Linked DNA regions of Homo sapiens: all the other regions are linked to region 3. The links come from fine-mapping of genetic effects on gene expression. A gene starts in region 3. Each other region holds a variant in brackets. All regions are shown on one strand. Distances are from middle to middle.

Region 1 (7,997 bases), 410 kb after region 3:
GGGCCCTGGGCAGGCCTCTCTCCACCTGCCCTCCTGGACAGGCAGCACCGTCATTGCTGGGAGAGCCATGTCCCTGAATGTGACCGAGGGATGGCTTCGCCCGTGGTGGCCCCTCTGCCTGCCTGGTGTGGGTGATGCAGAACAGCTCTTGGCTAATAAATGTGCCGCGTTTCCCAGACAGGAGACGACGTGGCCTAGTGCATAAATAAGACAAGCCTTTTTAAAAAAGAAATCTGTATTTAAGGATGTGTTTGGCTGTGTTCTTCTCCTCCCGTAAAGGTCACCCAGATAGATTTTTCCTTCTTTAGCATTGCAGGCTGCGAAGAACTGGGCATTTCTATTCTCCCTCCATCCAGTGAACCTGGCGGACTAAATTAGATTCTGAAATTGAGTGTGCAGTAGAGTCGGTGAGTTACCGTAATGGGAGGGTACTGCTTCTCACCTTGCAAGGAGCGAGGTCATGATAATATGAAGCGAAGTGGATTAAAAATAAAACCAAAGGTATTTATTTATGACCTGCTCAGAATTGGATTGGCATCCATGTAAGTTGCATCTAATGGTGAAAGACAGCAGATTGATGTTGATATGTCCCCAGGGACTTTTAGCCAGTGAAATTCGCTCCCTGAATTCAATTTAAAGGCCCACTGAAAGTATCCAAAATGCGAAAGGAAATGGAATTGAGGAAGTGGGGGTGGAAGCCCAGCAACTGCGAAATAGCAATTGGAAGACGGTCCTGGTGTGTAACCCTCCTGATGCAGGACCGGAGAGAGGACAGTCCTGGTGTGTAACCCTCCTGATGCAGGACCAGAGAGAGGACAGTCCTGGTGTGTAACCCTCCTGATGCAGGACCGGAGAGAGGACAGTCCTGGTGTGTAACCCTCCTGATGCAGGACCGGAGAGAGGACAGTCCTGGTGTGTAACCCTCCTGATGCAGGACCGGAGAGAGGGCAGTCCTGGTGTGTAACCCTCCTGATGCAGGACCGGAGAGAGGACAGTCCTGGTGTGTAACCCTCCTGATGCAGGACCGGAGAGAGGGCAGTCCTGGTGTGTAATCTTCCTGATTCGGAAATGGAGAGCGCAGCTCCGGGATGGCCGGGGGGCCTGCCTCAGTGAGGGTGGGGCAACATGCAGACGGCAGCCTCCGGCACAGCCAGGATGTGAGCCCAGGTCATCTGTCCAGGCTCTGTGCCTGCACAGCTCAGCTCATCCTGGCTGTGCCTATGTGGAGAGCCTGCCATCCTTATCTCCAGATGAAGAAGAGTGTGGCTTGGAGAGCCAGGCCCACTGCCCAAGACCACCTGGACAGGAAGACAGGATGTGAACTTCAGAGCCCAGCTACCCCCCATTCCCCTCCATGCCAGTCTTGCTGGGCTGCGTTTTCTCGAGGCAGGCGACATGGGCATCCCGAGCCTGTGGCCCTCCCTGTCCCTTGTCACCTGCTAGGAGTGGGGAAGGGCAGTTCCAGCACCCTGAGGGCTCCTCAGCCGCCTTCCTGACTTCCTGGATCCAGCTTCTGTTTGGGGTGGGAGGTAGGAGAAGCCGGGGAGCCTGCAGGTGGCCCCCTGGGGGCAAATTCTCGAGGACCAGAGCCCACAGGGCCATCTGAGCAGTGTAGACCCCTCCCTCAGGGAGTCTGCCCAGCTTCATGACAGAGCCTGGGCTTGGGCTGGCCCTGACCTGATGGTCCCCTGTTTCTCTTCTGAGAACCCCCACTGCAGGAGGCTGTCTTGGCCACTCAGCCCTCTCTGATCCCTACTTCTGCCAAGCCCTCTGTGTGTTGGGGTCCCCGGAGACCTGCCCTGCCCTTGGTGGGCTGCCAGCAGCTGTGGATGTGGGCGTGGTCATGTGGGAGGGCGGGGCTGTCAGGCGGTGGTCGTGGGGGGTCCCCCGAGGACCTGTGCTTTTCCTTCCCCGTTGTGGCCTCAGTGGACGTAGGTCAGTCTCCATCTCCTCAGTGTCCGCATCCCGGCCTCCAGACCATGAGCTCTGGAGACAGTCGCCCATGTGTCTTTTGGGGGTGGGACTCAGTGCCCCCATAGCCCATCTGAGACACGGCCCAGCTGCAGGCCAGAGGAGCCCACCCAGCACTCCCAGTAAGCCCAACGCACCTGCCCAGTGCGCCCGGTGAGCCCAGTGTGCCTACCCAGCACTCCCAGTGAGCCTACCCAGCACTCCCAGTGAGCCTACCCAGCACTCCCAGTGAGCCTACCCAGCACTCCCAGTGAGCTGTGTGCTCACCCAGAGTGCCCAGTGAGCCCAGTGAGTCCGGTGTGCCCGCCCGGTGTTCCCACCCAGCATGCCCAGTGAGCCTTGTGTGTCCACCCAGTGTGCCCGCTCAGTGAGCCTGGTGTGTCTACCTAGCATGCCCATGGAGCCCACTGTGTGCCCACCCAGTGCTGGCTGTACTGCTGGCCGTATGTGTGTTTTCCCAGTCTGTCCAGCAGCCCTGACAGTAATTTACTACAGTAAATAAAAATTTGTACTATGTGAATTCAATGCAATAAATGCTGTGACTGGGAAGTAGAATGGGAGAATGAAGGGTACAGGAGGCGAGATTTTAAAAATACACATGTAAGATGATTTTATCCACACTGAACGACTTATAATTGTTGCTTATTCCCTATAGTTCCCTATTTTCCTACTTACATGCATGTCATTCACCTTTATGTAAAACCTTTTACCTCCTATCTTTACCTATGAGAATCCTACCTGAATTTTAAGAGTCTGATCAAATGTCACTTCCACAGAAAGGCCTTCTTTGGTTGTAACTGGAATTAATTTTTAAATCTCAGTCTAAGGCAAATAAGCACATTAGAAAGCAATAAATAAATAAATGGTGGCCCCATTTTGCAGAGGAGGAAGCTGGGCCTCGGGGTGGAGTCATTGTTCCAGGGCACCAGGTTGGACCTAGACCTGAAGCTGGGTTTGGTGGAGCCCTGCACCCCAACCCACTGGTGTGAGGTGGTCATGCAGGAGGGGCCAGTTGGCGCTTTGCTGTGCTCCTGGGCTCCCGGGGTGGGCCTGAGCCGGCTCCGTTCTGTGATCCCCTCGTGTGGGCTTCATCTGCTGATGGTGCTGGTGCCCGGAGGGGTCTCCTGGTGCACAGAAATCTGTGCTTAGTGGCAGTTCCAGGGGTGCTGCGGTACTTCCTGGGCTGATACAGGCTTTGTGGGAGTGGGAAGCTCCTGGGCGGAGGCTGCAAAGCTGCAGCAGGGCCCCGAGAGCTGGGTCTCCCCCTGAGGGGCAGGGGATTCAGTTAAATGAAGCTCTGGGCGGCCCCTGCCACGACATCTCAGATGCCGGACTTGGAGCTGCGCAGTGGGCCTCCTGCCTGGCTGCTGGGATGGGGCGGTGGCCGTGGGGCGAGGCCTGGGGCCCTTCTGGGGTTGAGCAGGGAGCAGCTGCCGGCTGGGCAAGTTTTCCTGGGTCACCCACCCTCCACTGTGGGTCACCTCCTCTGACCTGGGCTTGTGTCTTTCTCTCCAGTTTTCCTGGATCACCCGCCCTGCACCGTGGGTCACCTCCTCTGACCTGGGCTTGTATCTTTCCCTCCAGTTTTCTGGGGTCACCCGCCCTCCACCGTGGGTCACCTCCTCTGACCTGGGCTTGTCTCTTTCTCCCCAGGAGCTGCTGCTCTTCCTCCAGAACCTGCCCACAGCCCACTGGGATGATGAGGACATCAGCCTGTTGCTGGCCGAGGCCTACCGCCTCAAGTTTGCTTTTGCCGACGCCCCCAATCACTACAAGAAATGAGCCCAGGCCCACCCGCAGCTGGCCTCACTGTCCCGGGTGGCGCGCCCCACCTGCCTGGCTGGTGGTAGGCCCCTGTGAGCTGGTCCCGGGCTGCTAAAAGGCCTTGTGAGGTGGCCCCACCCTCCAGGGGAGCTGGTGAAGATGGGCCACAGACCTGGTCTAGGGCTGACAAAGACAGGGACAGCCTTTGTTTTCTGAGATACCAAAGAGAGCCAGGGGAGGGCCCCGGGTTCGGCGGCCAGAGGCAGGTCAGGGGTCCCCTCTCCCTCTCCCTGCAATGTCCTTGCCAAATGACTGCCTCGTGCTGCCCCTAGTCCGGGGCAGCCTAGGAGGCCGACCCTCTTTGGAGTCCTGCTGTCTGGGTGCCAGGGCCGGAACGAGGTAGTGGCCATCTCATACCTACTCTGAAATGCAAAACTTCTATTCTGTTGAGTGAAAGAATAAAATGTAGACAAAATCTAGACCGAGACGTTGCGCTGACCCGGGGTCTCTGTGCCGCGAGGTCCCCTCACAGCTGTATTTCACTGCTGCTGGCCCTTTCCCTCCGTGTGTTTTCCTGCTTGCTTGGTTTAAACGTGGCTGGGAAGCTGAAGGCTGGAGTCCAAGCCGTGAGCCCGCCGAGTGCCTGGGAGGCCGTGGGACCAAAGGCTGGGAGCAGAGGGAGGCCTCGCCATCGCCTTACTTTCCACCTTGAACCTCTTTTACAAGAGAGAAACCCCCACCTCCCTGAGGTCCAGGGCCAAGTGGCCCCGCCACGCAGGTAGGCGCCGGCCTCAGCCAGAGCCCCTGGAGGCCCACCCAGGCTGTCGGGCCATGTTGGGCTGGCAGACGGGCAGGGGGTCGCGTCCCTGTCATCAAAGCCCTGAACCACAGTGCTCTTCTCACCGCAGCCTGGAAGCGGAATGAGCTTTTGGAGACTTCCTGGGACTTGCTGTCCTTGTCCAGGTCTGCCAGGTGTAGGGGAGGTGTGACTGGTTCCATCATGGACCGGTTCCTCCATGGACCGGTTCCTCCGTGGACCGGTTCCGCCATGGACCGGTTCCGCCATGGACCACTCCTGCCCTGGACCACTCCTGCCCTGGACCGGTTCTGCCGTGGACTGGTTCCCGCCGTGGACCAGTTCCCGCTGTATACTGGTTCTGCCCTGGACTGGTTCCCGCTGTGGACTGGTTCCTTGGGGCTCTAAGTGCGGAAGGGCCCAGAGCTGGTCCCTGCCCAGCGCCCTGCTAGGGCTGTGTCCTTGGCTCCAGGGGCCTTGGGACTGGCTTCCCAGC[G/A]TTCCCTCGGTGTGTCACAGGCTGCATGACCCCTGGAATGCGGGCAGGGCCACAGCCACAGTCTGTCTGATCCCTGAGCCCAGGACAGGCTCACGTCCTCAGCGACCCACTGGTGACTGACTTCCCAGACTCTCCTCTGTCCCTCAGGAGCAGCCGTGTCCTCTCCCAGGCCCTAGGACACTGCCAGAGACTGTGGGACATACAGGCATAAGTGATGTGTGTGTTTCTGCTTCTGTTTTAAAAATCCAGGGTCATTACACACAGCATGGAAATTAGCACAAAATGCTGTGCAAACGTCAGATGCTCCCAAACCAGCAAAGGGATGGGCTTGCTTCACATCAGATGCGGGCACGCCTTACCCCTGCCTTCCGTGTCCCCACCCCAGGGTCAAGGGTTCCTCAGACCAGCCATGCCTCCTCCTCCTGCCGCCTCCTTTTCTAGATGGGGAGGGGATTCCGTCACAAGAAGAGCCGCCCCTCGGCCGTGTGCAGGAAGCCCCATGTCGCTTTGCCGAGATCAGCCCTGGGAGGATCCCCTTCTCCAGCTCAGATCATGCCGTGTGGCCAGAAGGCTGCGGACACAACTGACCTGCTTCTCGAGGTGGTTGATGTTTTAAACAGGAAGCTCCACGGAGTTCAGCCCTGTGTGCATTTCCTCATGTATGTAAACGCCAAGACTGAATGTGAGAGGTGTTGGCCGCGGGCCTTAAGTCTGAGCAGATCCATCTGGAATGTTCGGGGTGTGCTGTCTGGATGTGGTGCGCTAAAAACACGGAATAAAGATCAGTGACAAAGCCGCGGCCTTGGCCTGTGATTCGAGGACTTGCCCATCGAGGACAGGGGCACCCTGGCCCAGCCCTGCCGAGGGTCTGAGCTCAGGGCCATTGCGGCGCACCAGCGTGGGCCCGGCAGCACCCGTGATCTCGCTGCCCCCCGCAGGACCTCTCAGGGAGATGGGGCTGCAGCTGCTCAGGTGGTGCAGGGATGCCACTTGCCCGGGCGGGGCAAGACTCAGAAACCAGTCTGACCCCCGAAGCCCGGCTCTGCACTAGCTGGAACACGGGAGTGTGGGGTCCAGGCTGGCCCCTGTCAGGCTCCTGAACAAGGGACCTCCCCTTGGGCCACATCTGTCAAGCACCTGCTTTGAAAAGGGCTGTTCCGGGGTAGGCACCAGGGTCTGGGGTCCCCCCCGCCTCTCCTGGGATACACTTGCCTCACCCTCACCCACACACTGAAACACCCTCCTTGCCCTGTGTTACTGAAGCAAGGCCCTTCAAAGGGCCTCAGTTTCTCAGGGCAGCTTTCCAGGTGCGCCACACCCCTCTGAGTAACCCCGTCTGGGTGCCCCACCCTCAGGTACCCCACACCCCCCTGGGTGCCCCACCCTCGGGACCCTCCCTTGGCAGCACTTGGCTTTCCACTGCCTTGTGCTGTCCGCTGACGGGTGTGGGGTGTGCTCCTGTCCCCGCGGGTGTGGGGTGTGCCCCTGTCCCCGCGGGTGTGGGGTGTGCCCCTGTCCCCGCGGGTGTGGGGTGTGCCCCTGTCCCCGCGGGTGTGGGGTGTGCCCCTGTCCCCGCGGGTGTGGGGTGTGCCCCTGTCCCCGCGGGTGTGGGGTGTGCCCCTGTCCCCGCGGGTGTGGGGTGTGCTCCTGTCCCCGCGGGTGTGGGGTGTGCACTACTGACCGGCTGTGGGGTGTGCTCCAGTCCCCACGGGTGTGGGGTGTGCTCCTGTCCCCACGGGTGTGGGGTGCGCACTACTGACCAGGTGTGGGGTGTGCTCCTGTCCCCGTAGGTGTGGGGTGTGCTCCTGTCCCCACGGGTGGGCTGGTGGCTCCACAAAGTGGGAGTAGCCTCTTCACCTCTCTTTCCACAGTGACCCAGTGCGGAGCTGAGCCAGGCAGGGCTGCCTTCCTGGGCCCGGTGGCCCGGCACATGGGCTGACCTCACTGTTGCCTGGCTGTGGTCTGCAGGGTCGTAGGCTGCAGGACGGAGATCGGCTGTCCCCAGCAGCCACCAGGTGTTCAGCTCCTGACTCCAGGTCACAGCCCAGCAACTGCCATTCACCTTCACGATTCCCCGGAGTTTGCAGCTCAGCAGTTGGCTCCTCGGGCCCAACTTGAGGTCTTCACAGCCTGTGCAGACTCTGCTCCTGTGGGTGGCCCGAGCCCAGGGGTCCTGAAATCAATCCCTGACCTGTGGTGGCTGCTGTCCTGTGCACCTCACCCTGCCCGGTCCCAGGGAGAGGCTCGGCCTGCTGGCACCACTGCTGTGCCCTTGGCAAGGTCAGACGCGTCGGGGAGCATTGGGGTCCTGGGGAGTAGGAGATGGAGAGTCTCTGTGGTTTGTACTTTTGGAAGAACTAGGAGGTGGGACGCTTCTGTGCCGTGTCACCGATGGATGGAAACAGGAGGAATACTGTCTGTGTTCAAGCAGACCCACTCCGCTGAGGACTTGGGGACAGGCTGCAGAATGACACGCGCCATCGCAGGCTGCAGCATGCCAGCCTCCATGCCGCCGTCCTCCAGAGCTGGAGGCTCCTCGTCAGCCCTGTGGCCCCAGTGATCTGCTCTCGGCCGCAGTCCTGGGGAGTTTGCCCAAGACTCAGACCCCTCGGGGTGTGGACCTCCCTGGGGCCTTCCCAGCCCCAGTCCACCCCACCGTTCCTCTCCTCTCTCAGCCCCAGCCCCTTGGCTTCCTTCTGGCTCTGCACTTTGCCCTGCGGGATTGCGGGCTGCTTGGGGTGGCCCCCACTCAGCTGTGAGGCCTTTCCACACCCACCCTGCAGCTCCTTGGCATGGAGGGTCCCCAGCACAGGATGGCCTCCACCCAGGAGGCACACGGCCGCTTACATGGTCCTGTGTGAGTGACCCAGCCGTAGTCCATTTTGTTGACAAGATGAGGCTGGCTATTCTTTCTTTTTTTATTTTTTTATTTCTTGAGACAGGGTCTTGCTCTGTGGCCCAGGCTGGAGT
Region 2 (7,997 bases), 210 kb after region 3:
ACAATAAGGGTAATTCCAATTCTCCTGGCGTTTAGAAGACAAATCACCACGGGGGCTCTCTGAGTTAAATGCCATTACTTCATTACCTTGAAGAGTAACAAATGGCCCATTGTGAGAAATGACACCTAGAATAGGCCACTGACATTTCCTCAGATAAAATAACAAGCCAGCTAAACAGACCAAGAGAGCGAGGCTCCTGCCTGGCTCACGCGGCGCCTGGCTCTGCGAGTCGGAGCTGCCACAGCCCAGCTGCATCTGTGCACTCAGGCAGAGGCTGTCAAGGTCTGGGAGGCCTTAGTTCCCTGTTTACTCTTATTATCTCTGAGGAAATGTCTCCATGCTTGGAAGGCCCTTGAAAGAGGATACGTCGATGGGAAACTTCTCAGAGGAAGCCTGCTGATGATTGCTGCTGATTCAGTTCCCTGAGAAGAGGAAATAAAATCAGACCCACTCTAGGCCAGCAGAACGTTGAGTTGATTCTGCCCAAACTGTTTTCCCAGGGAGGAAGTGATGCCAGGGGGAGGCCACTTACCCTCCTGTCTATTTGCTTGGCTTTTGCTGCCGGTCCTTCCAGTAGGAAAGGCGTTACGAGGGGGCTGGACTTGGAGTCGAGGCAGGCCTGTCCTGCTCACTCCCACCATTGCCTCACAAAGCACACTGATCAGCGCGTGGAGGCTTAGTTTCTGCATCTGTGAACCGGCAGAAATAACACCTCCCACCTTGGGCTGCCGTGGGAAATTGGGAGACAGGGCCTTTCCCTGGGAGTCCCTGTGGGGGCTTCATCAGAGGGTGTGCTCAGGTCAACCCGGGCTCCTGCGCCAGCAGAGTTTTGAGACCAGACACCTTGCCACTTGCTGGAGGGAGAGCCTGCAGCCCGGCAGGGAGCCGGTGGGTGGACAGAACCACCAGGAGAGTGCTGGTGTCATGGGCACACCCGGCTGGGAGGAGGGTCAGGGGACAGAGCCATGGCCAGCCAGCAGCACTTGTCATCCTAGCCCCGCATTCGAGGAATGGGGAACTGGGACCTGCCTTTTAGGGTGAAAACATGGGCCAAGAGAGTGAGGGCCTGGTTGCACCCGGTATGCTGTGGACAATGGTGTCCTTCACAAGCCCGGGTCCCAGGAGGAACCCATCCATTTCCCCATGCCACTGGGTGACTCCGACACCTAACATTGATGTTTCCAATCTTTAAAGTCGCTTGTTTTCCCCTTTAATTCATGAGCATCTTGAGGGCGTCAGGTCTCTCACTCATGTCTGTGCCTGGTGCCTGGTGTATAGGGACAGATCCCGCCCACGGGACCGGCTCTCTGTGTCCACATTACCCCTTGGTGGAGACAGCCCAGGGTCTACCAGCCGAGGCATGCAGAGACGCGGCGTGGCCTGGCCGTAGGGGTGCGGCTCAGTCGTGAAGAGGAGTGAGGCATTGACACGGGCTGCCGCATGGATGACTCTGGAGAACATTGTGCTCAGTGAGAAGGAGCCAGTCACAGAGGGCCGCAGAGCCTGATTCCAGCAGTGTGAAATGTCCAGAATAGGCAACTCCATAGAGACAGAGGCAGGTTCGTGGTTGCCAGGCGTGGGGTGGGGAGTGGGGAGCGGCTGCTGAAGGGTCCAGGGTTTCTTTCCGTGGTGATGCAAAGGCTCTGGAACTAGCGGTGACGCTTGTGACCCTACTCAAGACCACTCTGTCGCACACGCTAAAGAGTGGATTTTATGGCGGATGAATTATCTCTCCGTTTACAAAACCCAGAACCAAATCAAAGCAATACCCATGGAGTGACTGAGGGTCCACCCCCAGCACCCCAGAGAGAGGAGTGATGTGCGAACTGGCTGGAATCCGCCCACCCTCCCACGTTCCCGCAGGTCCCGCCATGTTGGATGTGTCCAGGGCTGTTGCCTCCCTGTCCAGGCCCTCGAGCGCCCAGCTGCTCACTCCTGCTGGAGGGTCAGACACGGAGGCGCTCTTGCCCTTTTATCCTGCTGGTTCTGGGGTGAACCAAGAACCGTGGGAGGTGGCGTGTCACCTCGTCTCTTCCAGTCACACACTTCAGTGTGAGTTAGCAATTGTGCAGGGCTGCGACTGGGGAAGCAGCGCGATGGGATAGGACTGTACACGACACGAATGTGAGGTGGGCCTCTGGGTCCTCAGGGAGCACTTAGGGACCTGGGTTCTGGGACCAGTAGGTGGGGCTGCATCTGGCACCCCCCTCCCCATGTGTACCAGGCTGCTCGGCATAGCCACGGCCCTGCCCCTCTTTACCCCGCTGTTGTCCGGGGCTCAAGGGTGGTGACAGCAGAGTGGTGACAGCTGAAATGAGCACGCACATTCACAGTGCGCAGGAGAGGGCCTGGCGCGTCAGCAGACCCCGGTCAACACCAGCGGCAGCATCATCCGTATCAGGATTGTGATGTTTATCTGCTTCAACCTTTCTACATATATTCTGGGTTGAAATGTTTCTTTTCTTAAAGAACGTTTTCCTTGCGAAGATGCCATGCAAATAAAACTAAAGTAAAAAAAAATTAAAAATAGGGAAGATAATTTTTAAAACATTTATGAGTATTTTGCTGGATGACAACAGTTTTGTAAGGATCTAAAATTAGTTTGTTCAAATATCTGATAAGCCATTTCAATTAGGCATCTGTTTTGCATTTTAAAAACTTTTAGATTGTGTTTTCTCATTCGGTTTTTTGTACTTTAAGAAGGAAATTATTTAGAGCGCCATTGTCTGTTCTATCTTTGACGCACATCTGTGGTACGGCTTTCTGGGGTTTTGATCATAGCATGGAAGTATTTACCCAGTGCAGTTTTGGAAACTCTAACTTTGGAAAGAGGTTTTTAGAGGAATTATTGCCAAATGAATATGTAAATATATCAGAAGCAGAGTTTTCAAAATCTTAGGAAAAAACTTTCAGATCTGTTAGGATTAAGTAATATATTCTATTTTCTCTCTTATTAGAATGTGAAATGCCTGAGAAGCAATAGTTTATAATGTATTAATTATGTTAATTAATTGGAGAAGATTCAGAATATTAATTATCTGCAACTAATTAGGTGTTAAGATTGAGAAGCATTAAGTGATGAGGTGGAAGGCTGCATGAGTCATTTAGCTAGACTGATGAGAGTGGGTGGAGGGAGCTGGATGCAGGCTCAGCTCTGTTCCTCCGTGGGCCCCCTCGTGGGTCGAGGTCCC[G/A]TGTGGCTAAGTCTCCTTGTCTTTTGCATGCTCGGCGCCGCCCAGAGGCAGAGGAGGTGGACACGGTGGACGTCTCCGGCGTGCCCGCAGAGGTGCTGTGCAACATCGAGGCCGACACCTACTGGTGCATGAGCAAGCTGCTGGATGGCATTCAGGTGAGCGCCCGCGCCCACGGGACACAGCCCACGCCCACAGCCCCTGCGGTGAAGAGAGCCTGAGGCCTTAGGCTGCTCCTGAGTCTCAGTGTGGCCATGCAGTCCCTCCTGAAGCCTCACTTTTCTACATCTGGAATAGCACAGACCCCTCCGGGTTGACGAGGGGTGAGACACAGTGTATGTGCCCCTCGTTCTGGGCACGGTCACGTGTCCTGCTGAGGGCCCAGTGGGAAGGCGAGGTGCAGAGTCTGATCCCCTGCTGCCTGCAGACTGTAGCCACCACCACCAAATAGGGCACAGGCTCACGGTAGCTATGTGTGTGTGGCTAGCTGTGCTAAGAGGGATCCTCCTTAAAGGGCCTCAGATCGGGGGCCACAGCTCCTGGCCTCTGACACCAGGCTGTGAGCCCTCGCCTGCAGTATTGGTGGCCAGGGCTCCAGGTGCGTGGGGCGCTGCAGCTGTGCCTGCTCCCAGAGAGCAACACGAGCTGGTGGGAGTCCCCTGCACCACAGTGGGGACCCTGCGGGTCTCTGCATCAGCTAGGGTTAGTGGCTGAGATTTCTGTAGAAAAGCCACAGGTCTCCCAGTGACGGCCAATCCTATGGCATGGTGTAGGGGCAGATTCCCACACAGTACCTGGGAAGGACCTTGTTGGTAGGTGAGTCAGGAATGAGGACTGGAGCCAGCTGATACTACAGAGGAACAGCTGAGGGGGATGGATGGGCCCTGGAGTGGGTGTGGGCGTCTTAGTTTATTTGAGGCCAGTACATCCTTTCTAGACACTCGCTTCCTGTGAGGTGCTGTGCTCCACACCCGGGCATAGTGGCGAGTAAGGGTGAGGCCTGCTCCGGAAGCTCACTCGGGGTGGAGGGTAGACGGGTGAGTATGGCATGAGGGGACAGAAGGCACTCGACCCCAAAGACCCAAAGGTGGGAAGAAGTAGATTACAGGGGACAGTGAATTTTGCTGACAGAGCAGGACTTGTCAGATAGAGGAGGGTCAAAGCCCAGAGCGCGGTTTGGGTCGGTAATCGTTTTCTGAGGGACCAAACACCAAGATCATCACGGGTGTTCGCATGTAGATGGCTCTCTGCTGAGAGCTGGGGCCTCCCGGGAGGGTCTGCATGTTCTGCCAGCATCCCTGTTATCCCAGCTCAAAGGGGGGCCCTCATCTGAGAGACACAGAGATGGGGTTGTCACTTGACATCTGCATTGCCTAGCAGGGCTTGGCTTTTCCTGAGCCATTGCGGTAAAGGTTGTTCCTGATACCACTAAGTGAAGAGGTCTCAGCTCATCTACTTGATTCAGAATCATCAGAATATGGCTTTTATAGCCTGTGGTCTAAGGTTTAGACTCCAAGTTTAATTTGAATATATTAGCTAAAAGGTTCCGTTGAGGAAAGACGTGTGGTTTTTGCTGTTACTTTTCATGATGTAGGAATGAAAAAGGAGAAAGTAGAAGCCTGTTGTGCGGTTGGAGAATGGAAACCTCGTATCTATTGGCTGGTCCAGACTCCTCGTGACTTACTTTGTTCCTTGCAAAGAAAAATGTGCCCACTAGAGATATATTTTGGCCCAAGCACCAATTTGTCATTTCCCCTCCTTTACTAATATTTTCATACATTTTATTCTTTCTGCTAGATCTTTCGGCTTTTTGCCCCCTTAGAAAAAGGATTGAATCATAATGTAAAACTTTATAAATTTCAAATGTCGCTTCTCTGATGGTGAGTGATGGGACTTGTGCCATTTAAATACAAGATTATCTGCCCTCTATTTGTAAATAAAATCTGCTGTACAATGAAATCGATGCTGGCTTTTTCATTTTTCACCTGAGATTTGTGGTCTGATGCAATGGTTTATTGGCAGGGCCGATGAGTGTGAGGGATCATGCTTTCCTGGCGCGTGTGTTTATAGCACATCACCGTCCCGTGGCAGCCGTTGATCTTCTCTCACGTGCCACGATGGATTCCACATGATCCTCCCAGGAGCAAGAGTTGAGGGATGTCAGTTCCCACCATCCAGGGGACTTGGCAGCTCAGCTGTGATTCCTGTAGATAAGGCCGTCCGAGCAGAGCTCCTCTAGCGACTAGTGTTTACAAGCACTGCCGCTGTTTTAAGTTCAGAGAAGTATGAGGCTATGTACTCACTTAAAACCACGGCAACACGCAGACCGGCGTGTCAGCTCCCGGACGACCTGGCCGCTTCTGCCTCTTAGCTCCTTTTCCTACTCTTGGTCTTACTGTCTCCATTTCATTCTTTTGGAACTGCTCGAACCATCTTCCTTAAGCACCCTCTTCACCACATCATCGCCCTGATTGAAACCCTTGGGGAAGCTCTCTCTTGGTTTTCTGAAGTGCAGGCTCTCAGCCCGGCCTCCACCAGTTGTTCCCAGCGTTCTTTCAAGGGCGTGTTTGTTCATCGGCTCTGTGGCAGCCGTCCACGCCGTTGCTGCAGAGGCTTTATTGGAGCCGCTGAGCCAGAACTGTGTGCTGGGGGCTCTTCCTCACCAGGAAGAGGGTCTTCAAGGGCCTCCTAGCCCCACAGTTTCTGTGATTGGTAGGCAGTCCCCATGGGAATGAATGTGAGGAACTAACATTGTCTTCGCCGTGACGGTGCTTCTTGGCGTGGGCATTCCCGGGACAGGTTGGAGCTCGGTTACACCCAGCACACAAGGCTGAGACTAAGAGAGATGAAGCCCATTGCCCAGGTGACGTGGCTTGTATTAAAACCCACGTTGACGGCTCTGGGATCTTTCCTAGCTGAAATACATAGAAGTGAGTCCCATTTGCAGGGAAGTTCTAGAGGGCAGAAACCACATCTATTTTTTTTACCTTTGGATGTCCTGGATGGTCATAACTATGTTTTTGGCTCACTTTGGAGCCTCAATTTGAGATTCCGTATTCTACTTGTTTTCAGTAATTAGTTAACTTTGTCATTTTGGCCGAGATGTATGAAGCACCTGCCTTCTCTCTGCAGGTGCTCAGAGAGGCGGAAGACTTTGGGGTGAGTCAGCATCACCCCTCTGTCCCCAAGAAGCTCAGAGCCTGGTGGGATGGAGCAGGGGGAGTGGACAGCTGATGGAGGCGAGGACAGAATGCTGGGAGAGGAGGCTCTTAGCCCCCAGTAAGATGGCAAACTAGGAAAAAGAACAAACCACTTTTCTCCCGACAAATCCCTGGAAACGTTAGGTGATTGGTCTGTTCTCGCACTGCTTAAAGAAGTGCCTGAGACTGGGTAATTTATAGAGAAAGAGGTTTAATTAGCTCACAGTTCCACAAGCTGTACAGGAATCATAGCTGAGGAGGCTTCAGGAAACTTTCAATTATGGCAGAAAGTGAAGTGGAAGCTGGTGTGTCGTACAGGGCTGGAGGTGGAGGGAGGGGTTGGGGGAGGTGCCACACACTTTTAAACAACCAGATCTCATGACCCAGCGACGCAGCGCTAGCAGGGATGGTGCTAACCCATTAGAAACCGCCCCCAGGATCCGGTCACCTCCAGCCAGGCCACGCCTCCAGCACAGGGGATTACAATTCAACATGAGATTTGGGTGGGGACACAGATCCAAACCGTATTAGCGGTATTGACCAAAGATTGTTTAACACGCATTGTGGGACTCCTTAACAGCAAAGAGAGGTCCTCCAGGAGCGAACAGCGCTGACTCCACTGGCTGGAGGGAATTGTCAGGCCAGCTCATGGCTAGGAGTGCAGGCTCTCCTGCCCTGGCGAGGTGTGATCACAGAAGCCAGTCCTGCTCAGGGAGATCAGGTGCTGCCCAGAGCAGGGACACGGGCTCTGCCATTGACATGCCCAGGCCTGTGTGCCTTGGGACTCTGCACTACAAACATTATTGAAGAGCTTGAAGAGCTTTTGTTTGTGTGGGTTAATTCTCTTGATAACTGCCATGTTGGAAATTCAAATAGAGAAAATTAAAAATATTTAGTAATTTATTTAACAACAACAATGAAAATCCCATTACATATTATTATAAGTAACATTTTTATGATAGATTACTATTTTTCGAAACAAAAATGTTTAGTGAGAAGAAAGGCATTGTTTTACATTTTTGTAAATCTCCTTAATGTCTAACTTAATAGAAGAATTCTTGTATCTACTTCTACATTCAATTTGTTGTGGTATTTTTTGTTTTAGCTGAAGAATGTGAAGAAAATCCAGCATTACATAGATACATAGTTGGAAAAGGAAGCGTGTTTTTTGTTTGTTTGTTTGTTTGTTTTTTGGAGATGAAGTCTCCTCCAGGCTGGAGGGCAGTGGTGCGATCTCAGTTCACTGCAACCTCCGCCTCCCAGGTTCAAGCGATTCTCCGCCTCAGCCTCCCGAGTAGCTGGAATTACAGGCACACGCCACCATGCCCGGGTAATTTTTGTATTTTTGTTAGAGACAGGGTTTCACTGTGTTGGCCAGGCTGGTCTCAAACTCCTGACCTCAAGTGATCTGCCCGCCTCAGCCTCCCAAAGTGCTGCGATTACAGGTATGAGCCACCGCGCCCGGCCAGGAAGTGTTTTAATAGCCTTTTCAGGTAATTTTGGATTCTTTTTTCATTCATACTATACTATTACTCAACAAATGGTAGTTTCTTAAAGGGTAGTTGTGATATGAAATCTGAAACCTCATCAGTGAATGTTTTACACTCAG
Region 3 (7,997 bases):
CTGCTGTATCAGCCCTTCTCCAAACCTTCTGAGCTACTTCTGGGCTTTTTCATTAACCAACTAATTCCCTTTGTAGTATAAGCTAATTTGAGCTGAACTTTGTCATTCTTGCAACCAACAGCACCCTAACTCATCCTGACTTAGTGTCAGGAAATGGCACGTTGCTAGTCCCTGTAATATAAAAATGGCTGAAAGGAGTTGGGGAAGGGGGCAGTGAAGACGACGCCTGCCTCTCGCGGTGTGAAACTGGGGACCTTTGCTATATGCCGTCTATTATTGTGGTAGGCTGAATAATGAACCCCTGAAGATATACCAGGACTTAATCCTGGGACCTGCAAATGTTACCTTAAATGGCCAAAGGGAGTTTGCAGGTGTGATTGAGCTAAGGGCCGGGTGATGGGGAGATCAGCCTGGACCGGATTATCCAGTGGGCCTGACGTGAGGTCAGAGGGATCTAGGAGGAATCGGAAGGAGAGAAGATGATGTGATGATGGCAGTAGAGATTAGAGTGATCTGCTTTCCAGACAGAGGAAGGAGTGTCGGCCAAGGAATGTTAAGTGGCCTCTAGAAGCTGAAAAAGGTAAGAAACTGACTCTCCCCTAGAACCTCCAGAAGGGGGCAGCCTTGCTGACGCTTTGAGTTTAGTGCAGTGAAGTGCTAAGACTTTGGACTTCTGACCTCCAGGATTGTAGGAGGGTAAATGTGTATTGTTTTCAGCCGCTAAGTCTGCAGCATTCTGCCAACAGCAGCCTTAGGAAACCAATACAGATAGAACAGTCAGCTTTTTACTTTGGGGCACAGGCTCGGTGCCTATGGACGGTACAGCACCAGGAAACTTAGGAGGCAGAACCCACCAAGTGGGAGTGTGGCAGCTCACTCAGTAAGGTCCTGTGAGAGATATTCTAAGCCCGGAGCAGGCCATCTGAAAGCAAAGAAAGCAGAAAACACTTCCCGAGGAACCCAAATGGCATTGCAAATCCAGCCATCCTGAAATACTATCCCAATTTTTTTTTGTTTGTTTTTTTGAGGCAGGGTCTCACTGTTTTCTAGGCTGGAGTGCAGTTGTGTGATCCTAGCTCACTGCTGCCTTGAACTTCTGGGCTCAAGTGATCCTCCTGCCTCAGTCTCCTAAGTAGCTAGGACTAAGAGTGTTTACCACCATGACTGGCTAAAAGAAAAAAAAAAAAGTTTCACAGAGATGGGGTCTCCCTATGTTGCCCAGGCTAGTGTTGATCTCCTGGTCTCAAGTGATCCTCTCGCCTCAGCCTCCCAAAGTACTGGTATTATAGGTGTGAGCCACTGTGCCTGGCCTGCTGCACTTTTGTTTGCCTTATCATGTAGTTCAATGTAGCTCAGTGCATAGCACAGTTCAAACTCAATAACTATATTTTAATGTATTATGAAACATTTTATACATGTAAAAACTCATAAAGAATATAACCAACACCTGAATATAGCCCATCTGCCTTAGGAAACAAAGCATAATAGCACAATTGATCCGCTATGAATGAATTCCTTCCTGTTCACAGTCCCCACCTGTACCTATAGGCAACCACCCTCCTGAATTTATCTTTTACCATTCTGGTTTTTTTTTTTTTTTTTTGAGATAGGGTTTGGCACTATCGCCAAGGCTGGAGTGCAGTGACATGATCACAGCTTGCTGCAGCCTCAAACTCCTGGGCTCAAGGGATCCTCCTGCCTCAGCCTCCTAAAGTGCTGCGATTACAGGCATGAGCCACCATACCTGGTCGCATTCTCATCCTTTAAAAGAAAATAGTACTAAATGGTATCATACCATGTGAATTAATATTCAACTTTTTCTCATTCAACACTGTGGAGTCAGGTGCGGTAGTGCTTGCATCTGTACTCAGCTACTCAGGAGGCTGAGGTGGATCACTTGAGCCCAGGATTTTGTGGCCAGCCGGGGGAACATAGTAAGCCCCATTTCAAAAACAACCCCACAGTTTGCAAAATTCATTTATGTTGATGTATGCAACTAATGTATTCATTTTTACTAACTTATGGTATTCTACTGCATAACTGTGTAGATTATCGATTCTGCCATAGATGGCATTTTGGTTGCTTCTCCCCCAGACCCCAACTACCACTAGAAGCAACGTTGCACTGAACATTCTTGTGTTTGCACGCATAGGCAAGGTACTCTAGAGCACATACCAAGAGTGGAATTGCTAAGTTATAGAGTATCTTTGCTAGAAATTGCTAAGTGGCCATCCAAAGTTAGTGAATGAACGTACACTCCTACTGGCAGTGCAAGAGAGTTCTGCTCTGCTCACAAATCCACATCCTTATTAAGTTTGGTAAAGACAGGTTTTTAAGTTTTTGCCAATCTGTTAAGTGTAACATGGTATGTCCTTAGTTTTAATTTGCATTGCTGCTCAATACTTGTTGCAAAAATGAATAAAAAATGTTCCATTCCATACCTCTGGGATTTGAGAATCTGTCCCAATTCCTAGGTCCCATATGTAGACTCCAACATCTGTATTACTTTGGCTTTCAAAACTGGCCTTCTACTCAGACTTTCTTTTTCCATCTTCACGTTTCTGTTGTGATCCTAGTAATCCTTTGCTTAGCTGGTTTTGAAGCCTTCAAGTCAATCTCAGCCTCACTCCTTCGCCTGAAAACAGTAGCTAGCAAAGTATACGGTAAGCTATAAAAAGCACCCGGATCTAAGGTGTAACCAGTCACTAAGTGCTGCCAGTTTTTCCTCTGTCAATTGTTTCAGTTCTTCCTTCCTTTCCCCTTCCATCAGGTTAATCCTGCTGTCACCTCGCTCACTGGTTCTTGCAATAAGCCAGACTGAGCTGGAAAGAACCGCCATGGTCCTCAGTGTTGTCTGTAGGGGACCTCACTGTCTGAGGCTGTCAGGGCTCTGTCAGGAGGAGACCCCTGGGGCCTTCTGAGCCCTACTAGGAGAGGATTCTAGGAGAGTAGGACGCCTTGCACATAGTAAGTACTAAGTCAATGTTACTTACCAGTAAATGAAGAGGCATGGGAAATTGTTATTATTTTTGAGACGGAGTTTCGCTCTGTCGCCCAGCCTGGAGTGCAGTGGCACGATCTGGGCTCACTGCAAGCTCTGCCTCACGGGTTCACGCTATTCTCCTGCCTCAGCCTCCAGGGAAATTCTTAATCAGAAAATATGTCTTAGATTTTTGTTTTAAAAGAGAACTGGCAGGAGCTCCAAATACACTAAAGCTCCAGTCTGAAATGACAGTCCCTGAGCATTCAATCTTTGGTCTAAGAAGCACAGAAATGTAATGCAAACCAGACACGGTTTTTTTAGTGATTTTCTGCACACACACACACACACACACACACACACAGTAAAAAGATCTAGTCATAACGTGTGCACCTGCAGTTCCAACTACTGGGGAGGGTGAGGCAGGAGGATCACTAGAGGGCAGGAGTTCGAGACTAGCCTGGGCAACATAGCAAGACACCCACCCCCAGTCCCCCCCGGAAAAAAAGAATAAAAAAGGTAAAAATAATTTTAAAAAGAGTAAAAGGAATGTAAAAATAATTTTAATGCATTTTATTTAATCCAATACATTAAAAATGTTACCTAACATGCAAACAATATACAAATTATTTTATACGACGTCTTTGGAATCCTGTATTTTACACGTAAAGCGCATCTCACTCCGGACTAGCCAGGTTTCAAGCACGTGATAGCCGCACAAGGCTGGAACCCAGGCCTGGGGAATTAATTCTTGTCCTCGGTGCTCAAACCATTCTTCCCTTCAAGCCTGGCCTAATCCCCAGTCTCTCTCATCTCTTCGAATACGCTCCGCGGTTATGCCCCTCACCTCACTGCACTGCAAATATTTCGTCCACTGAGTATTTGCTGATCGTCACTCAGTGCCGGGTGACCCAGCTTGACCAGCACCCGCAGCCGCCCTGCCACTGTTGGGCCGGGTATGGTGTGTCTGGCTTCCCTCTGTTCTGGGCCGGCTCCGAAACGCGCTCAAGAGAAATCGGAATCAGACACGGGGCAGTTCAGCTTTGGAAATGAGGAGCTCGAGGCTCCTGGGAGTCCGTTGCGGGCAGGTGGGCGCCGCTGTTGTGTCGGGAGAGCCAGGAGCGACAGACTCAAACTCAGAAACCCAACCACCTCCGCTCCCTCCGCGATGCGTGTAACGTGCGTTGCGCGGCGTCGCCCTTTAATAACGACGGGCGCTCGGAGTGCTGCGTCACTCGCCACCAGGGACTTAGGCGGGACTTCCGGGCGCGCGTAGGCACAACTTCCGGAAGGAGGCGGAAGAGCTTCTCGGCTCTAGGCTCTGGAGTCCCGGGAGCAGTGAGGGGCCACCCGGGGCACAGGAAAGGGCCGCTAGGGGAGGGCCGGGTGCACTCGGGGTGTCTGGGCCGCGGGTCTGAGGGATGAGGAGGGGCCATGGCCAGCGACGGGGCCAGGAAGCAATTCTGGAAGCGCAGCAACAGCAAGCTCCCGGGCAGGTGGGTGTGCCGCGGAGGGCCAGGTCGGGGTCAGGGGTCAGAGGTCAGGTGGCCGCGTTGGCCTCCTGGGCTGCGGGTGGAGTCGGGGGTCTGGAGAGGGCAACTTGGACTCTGAGGAGACTGCTGGATGGTGTGACGGGCGTTGGGGGGCTCGGAGGTCGGAGCGTGGGGTCTGGGGGTGACAGTGGCTGCACGTAGGATCGAGGCTTGCAAGGACGAGGAGGAGCTATTGGCGTTTTTCCTGACACTGGCAGGCTTCTTTCCGAGAAACTCCTGGGCTCCTTGGGGAGGCTGGAAGGAACTGATTCGGGTCATGCTGTGAAGTTTGGTGGAGTCCGGAAGCTGGCCGGGCTGAGGCCCCCCGTCTGCTGGGTGGATCAGTTTCTGCAGGGGGTGTGGTGTTTTTGACCCACTTGATTTGCCTGTGGTCTCTTGAGGGCTGCGGCTCTTGCCTTGAGCATAGAAGAGGACTAGAGTTTCCCTGTGAGTTTCCATGTTTCTGCTTGCTGGTGTCAAAACCACCTCCTATGTTGTGTTAGCAGGAAGTTTTTTTTTTTTTTTTTTTTTTTTTTTTTTTTTTCTTCGGCTGGAATGACCTGGGTACACCCTAGATGCTATACAGCTCCAGAGCTCCAGAGTCCTTGTCTGATTGCTGTGGCGCTGAGCTATGCCAGGGCCCTAGGGAATGAGACATTACGTGGAGGGTACCTAGGATAAAATCAGCCACTGGTGAAAACAGATCAGAGATAAGCAAACGTCAAGATTTCAGAACATAGTTCTGTTCCAAAGCTGAAGTCTGGAATGCTGAAAATTATGAATTGTGTTACGAAGATAAGTCTGAGTAGAATCATTCATAAACACAGTAAAATGGTTTGTACTCCTGTTTCATAATAAATATTATTGTTTGAGTGTTTGAATGATAAACTTTGGAATTTACTGCATCCAGTTAGAAAAGTTTACTTTTGGCCAGGTGTGGCGGCTCACGCCTGTAATCCCAGCACTTTGGGAGGTCGAGGTGGACAGATCACCTGAGGTCAGGAGTTTGAGACCAGCCTCACCAACATGGAGAAACCTAGTCTCTACTAAAAATACAAAATTAGCTGGGCATGGTGGCACATGCCTGTAATCCTGGCTACTTGGGAGGCTGAGGCAGGAGAATCACTTGAACCTGGGAGGTGGAGGTTGCAGTGAGCCGAGATCGTTCCATTGCACTCCATCCTGGGCAATAAGAGCGAAACTCTGTCTCAAAAAAAAAAAGGAAAGTTTACTTTTAAGAGTGATCTGGGGGTTAGCAGCGTGAGTTACTGACAGCTCAGACAGTGGCTTTGAGAATGAAGGGAGTCATCAAAGGTGGCCGGAGACCCTATTCGACTCCACAGGACCGTGCTTGATTCGAGAACAGTAAGACCTTTCAACAAAACCAGTGTCAGGGTCCAAGGTGAGTGAAGATTCTGGAATGGTGGTGGGTAGGAGGTCCTGGTAGTGACAGGAACAAATGCTGTAGAACATAAGAGTCCAGGGAAGAGGAGCCACATGACAGTGTAACTTTTATGTGTTACTTTTAGGTCTTAAGGTTTTGGTTCCTCATCAGTCTAAACTCTAATTCTTAATCAGCTTAGATGTAAGAATAACAGAGCTGCTGTGTGGAGTTACAGCAGTGACTCAACCTTTGGATTGAAGGCTGTGGCTCTTGGTAATTTGTCCTTATACTGAGTTGAATTTATGTCCATCTGGAAACTATGGATGTGACATTTGGAAATAGGGTTTTTGCACAAGTAATCAAGGTAAAATGAGGTCATACTGGATGAGGGTGGGCCTTAGTTCGTCAACTAGTATTTTTATAAAAAGAGGGAAATTTGAATACAGAGAGACACACACAGGGAAATGGCCCTATGGAGACAGAAACAGAGATTGGAATAGTACATTTACAAGCCAAGGAAAGCCAGGGGTTGCTGGCAGCCACCAGAAGCTAGAAGAGGCAAGGAAGGATGCTCACCTAGAGACTTGACAGAGAGCATGGCCCTGCAGATGACCACTTGATTTTGGGTTTTTGGCGTTTAAAACTGAGAGAGAATAAGTGTCTGTTGTGTTAAGCCATTCAGTTGGTGGTAATTTGTTATGGCAGCCACAGGAGACTAATACAGTCTCCAGCTTTCTTCTGTGTGAACCTGAAATACCGAACACCAGCTTTCCTTTTCCTCTGACTTTGATGCTATTCTGTGTCTTAGGCACTTTTGAGAGCAGCTTCTGTATTACCTTTGTGAAGTTGGAGTCTTGGAGAGTTCGAGGCTGTCACTGAAGAGGGCAGAAGAAGAAGGAGAGGTTGGGTGCACCAGGAAGGCCTGTGAAGCCTCTGTGTCTCCCATCCGTCTTGTGGCTCAAGCCTCTGGCAGTGCTGCTCTTTCAGGTGGCAGGCTGGAACTCTTCCCTGAAGGAGGAGTCACAGAGGGGTGCCCGTTTTCCTATCAGTAGTGGTGATTGGTCACTAGCTGCGTATTTATTTAGTCCACACCTATGCAAGCACAGTGCTAGTGGAGATCCTAGCCAGGTTCCTGTGGCTTTGGCAGCTCTTTCAATTGTTTCCCATGATTGTTTTCTTTCTTTTTTTGTTTTTGTTTTTGTTTTTGTTTTTTTTGAGATGGAGTCTCACTGTGTTGCCCAGGCTGGAGTGCAGTGGTGTGATCTTGGCTCACTGCAACCTCTGCCTCCCAGGTTCAAGTGATTCTCCTGTCTCAGCCTCCCAAGTAGCTGGGATTACAGGCGCCCACCAGCACGCCTGTCTGTTTTTTTGTATTTTTAGTAGAGATGGGGTTTCGCCATGTCGGCCAGGCTAGTCTCGAACTCCTGACCTCAGGTGATCCATCCACCTCAGCCTCCCAAAGTGCTGGGATTATAGGCGTGAGCCTCCATGCCTGGCCTTGTTTTCCTCCTTTTTTTTTTTTTTTTTCTGAGACAAGAGTCTCTCTCTGTAGTCCAGGCTGGAGTGCAGTGGCATGATCTCAGCTCACTGCTACCTCCACCTCCTGGGTCCCGGTTGAAGCAGTTCTCCTGCCTCAGCCTCCTGAGTAGATGGGATTATAGGCACTGGCCACCACGCCCAGCTAATTTATGTGTGTGTGTGTGTGTGTGTGTGTGTGTGTGTGTGTGTGTGTGTGTGTATTTTTTTTGAGACGGAGTCTCACTCTGTTGTCCAGGCTGGAGTGCAGTGGTGCGATCTCGGCTCACTGCAAGCTCCGCCTCCCGGGTTCACGCCATTTTCCTGCCTCAGCCTCCCGAGTAGCTGGGACTACAGGCGCCTGCCACCACACCTGGCTAATTTTTTATATTTTTGGTAGAGACGGGGTTTCACCGTGCTAGCCAGGATAGTCTCGATCTCCTGACCTTGTGATCCTCCTGCCTCGGTCTCCCAACGTGCTGGGATTACAGGCTTGAGCCACTGTGCCCGGCAATTTTTGTATTTTTAGTAGAGATGGGGTTTCACCATGTTGGCCAGGCTGGTCTTGAACTCCTGATCATGTGAT

What was found.
Region 1: its variant is fine-mapped to the expression of TBC1D22A in lung (TOPMed, PIP above 0.99).
Region 2: its variant is fine-mapped to the expression of TBC1D22A in whole blood (TOPMed, PIP above 0.99).

What each region holds. Positions count from the first base shown.
Region 1 is chr22:47,169,874-47,177,870 of GRCh38, forward strand. It overlaps TBC1D22A (TBC1 domain family member 22A), which reads left to right. Exons shown (of 13, transcript NM_014346.5): 13 at 3,625-5,820. The coding sequence ends at 3,753. Among named protein-coding and RNA genes, the nearest start is that of TBC1D22A-AS1, 260 kb to the left of the region's middle. RefSeq lists enhancers at 1,381-1,880, 5,978-7,068. The variant G/A (reference allele first, on the strand shown) is at 5,028.
Region 2 is chr22:46,971,054-46,979,050 of GRCh38, forward strand. TBC1D22A (TBC1 domain family member 22A) reads left to right here. Exons shown (of 13, transcript NM_014346.5): 9 at 3,237-3,346. Among named protein-coding and RNA genes, the nearest start is that of TBC1D22A-AS1, 59 kb to the left of the region's middle. The variant G/A (reference allele first, on the strand shown) is at 3,192.
Region 3 is chr22:46,758,373-46,766,369 of GRCh38, forward strand. It overlaps TBC1D22A (TBC1 domain family member 22A), which reads left to right and starts at 4,278. Exons shown (of 13, transcript NM_014346.5): 1 at 4,278-4,476. The coding sequence starts at 4,415. It overlaps TBC1D22A-DT (TBC1D22A divergent transcript), which reads right to left and starts at 4,156. Exons shown (of 1, transcript NR_186691.1): 1 at 3,539-4,156. RefSeq lists enhancers at 3,325-4,159, 3,896-4,025, 4,726-4,805, 5,736-5,805, 5,846-5,925 and 1 more and a silencer at 4,926-4,985.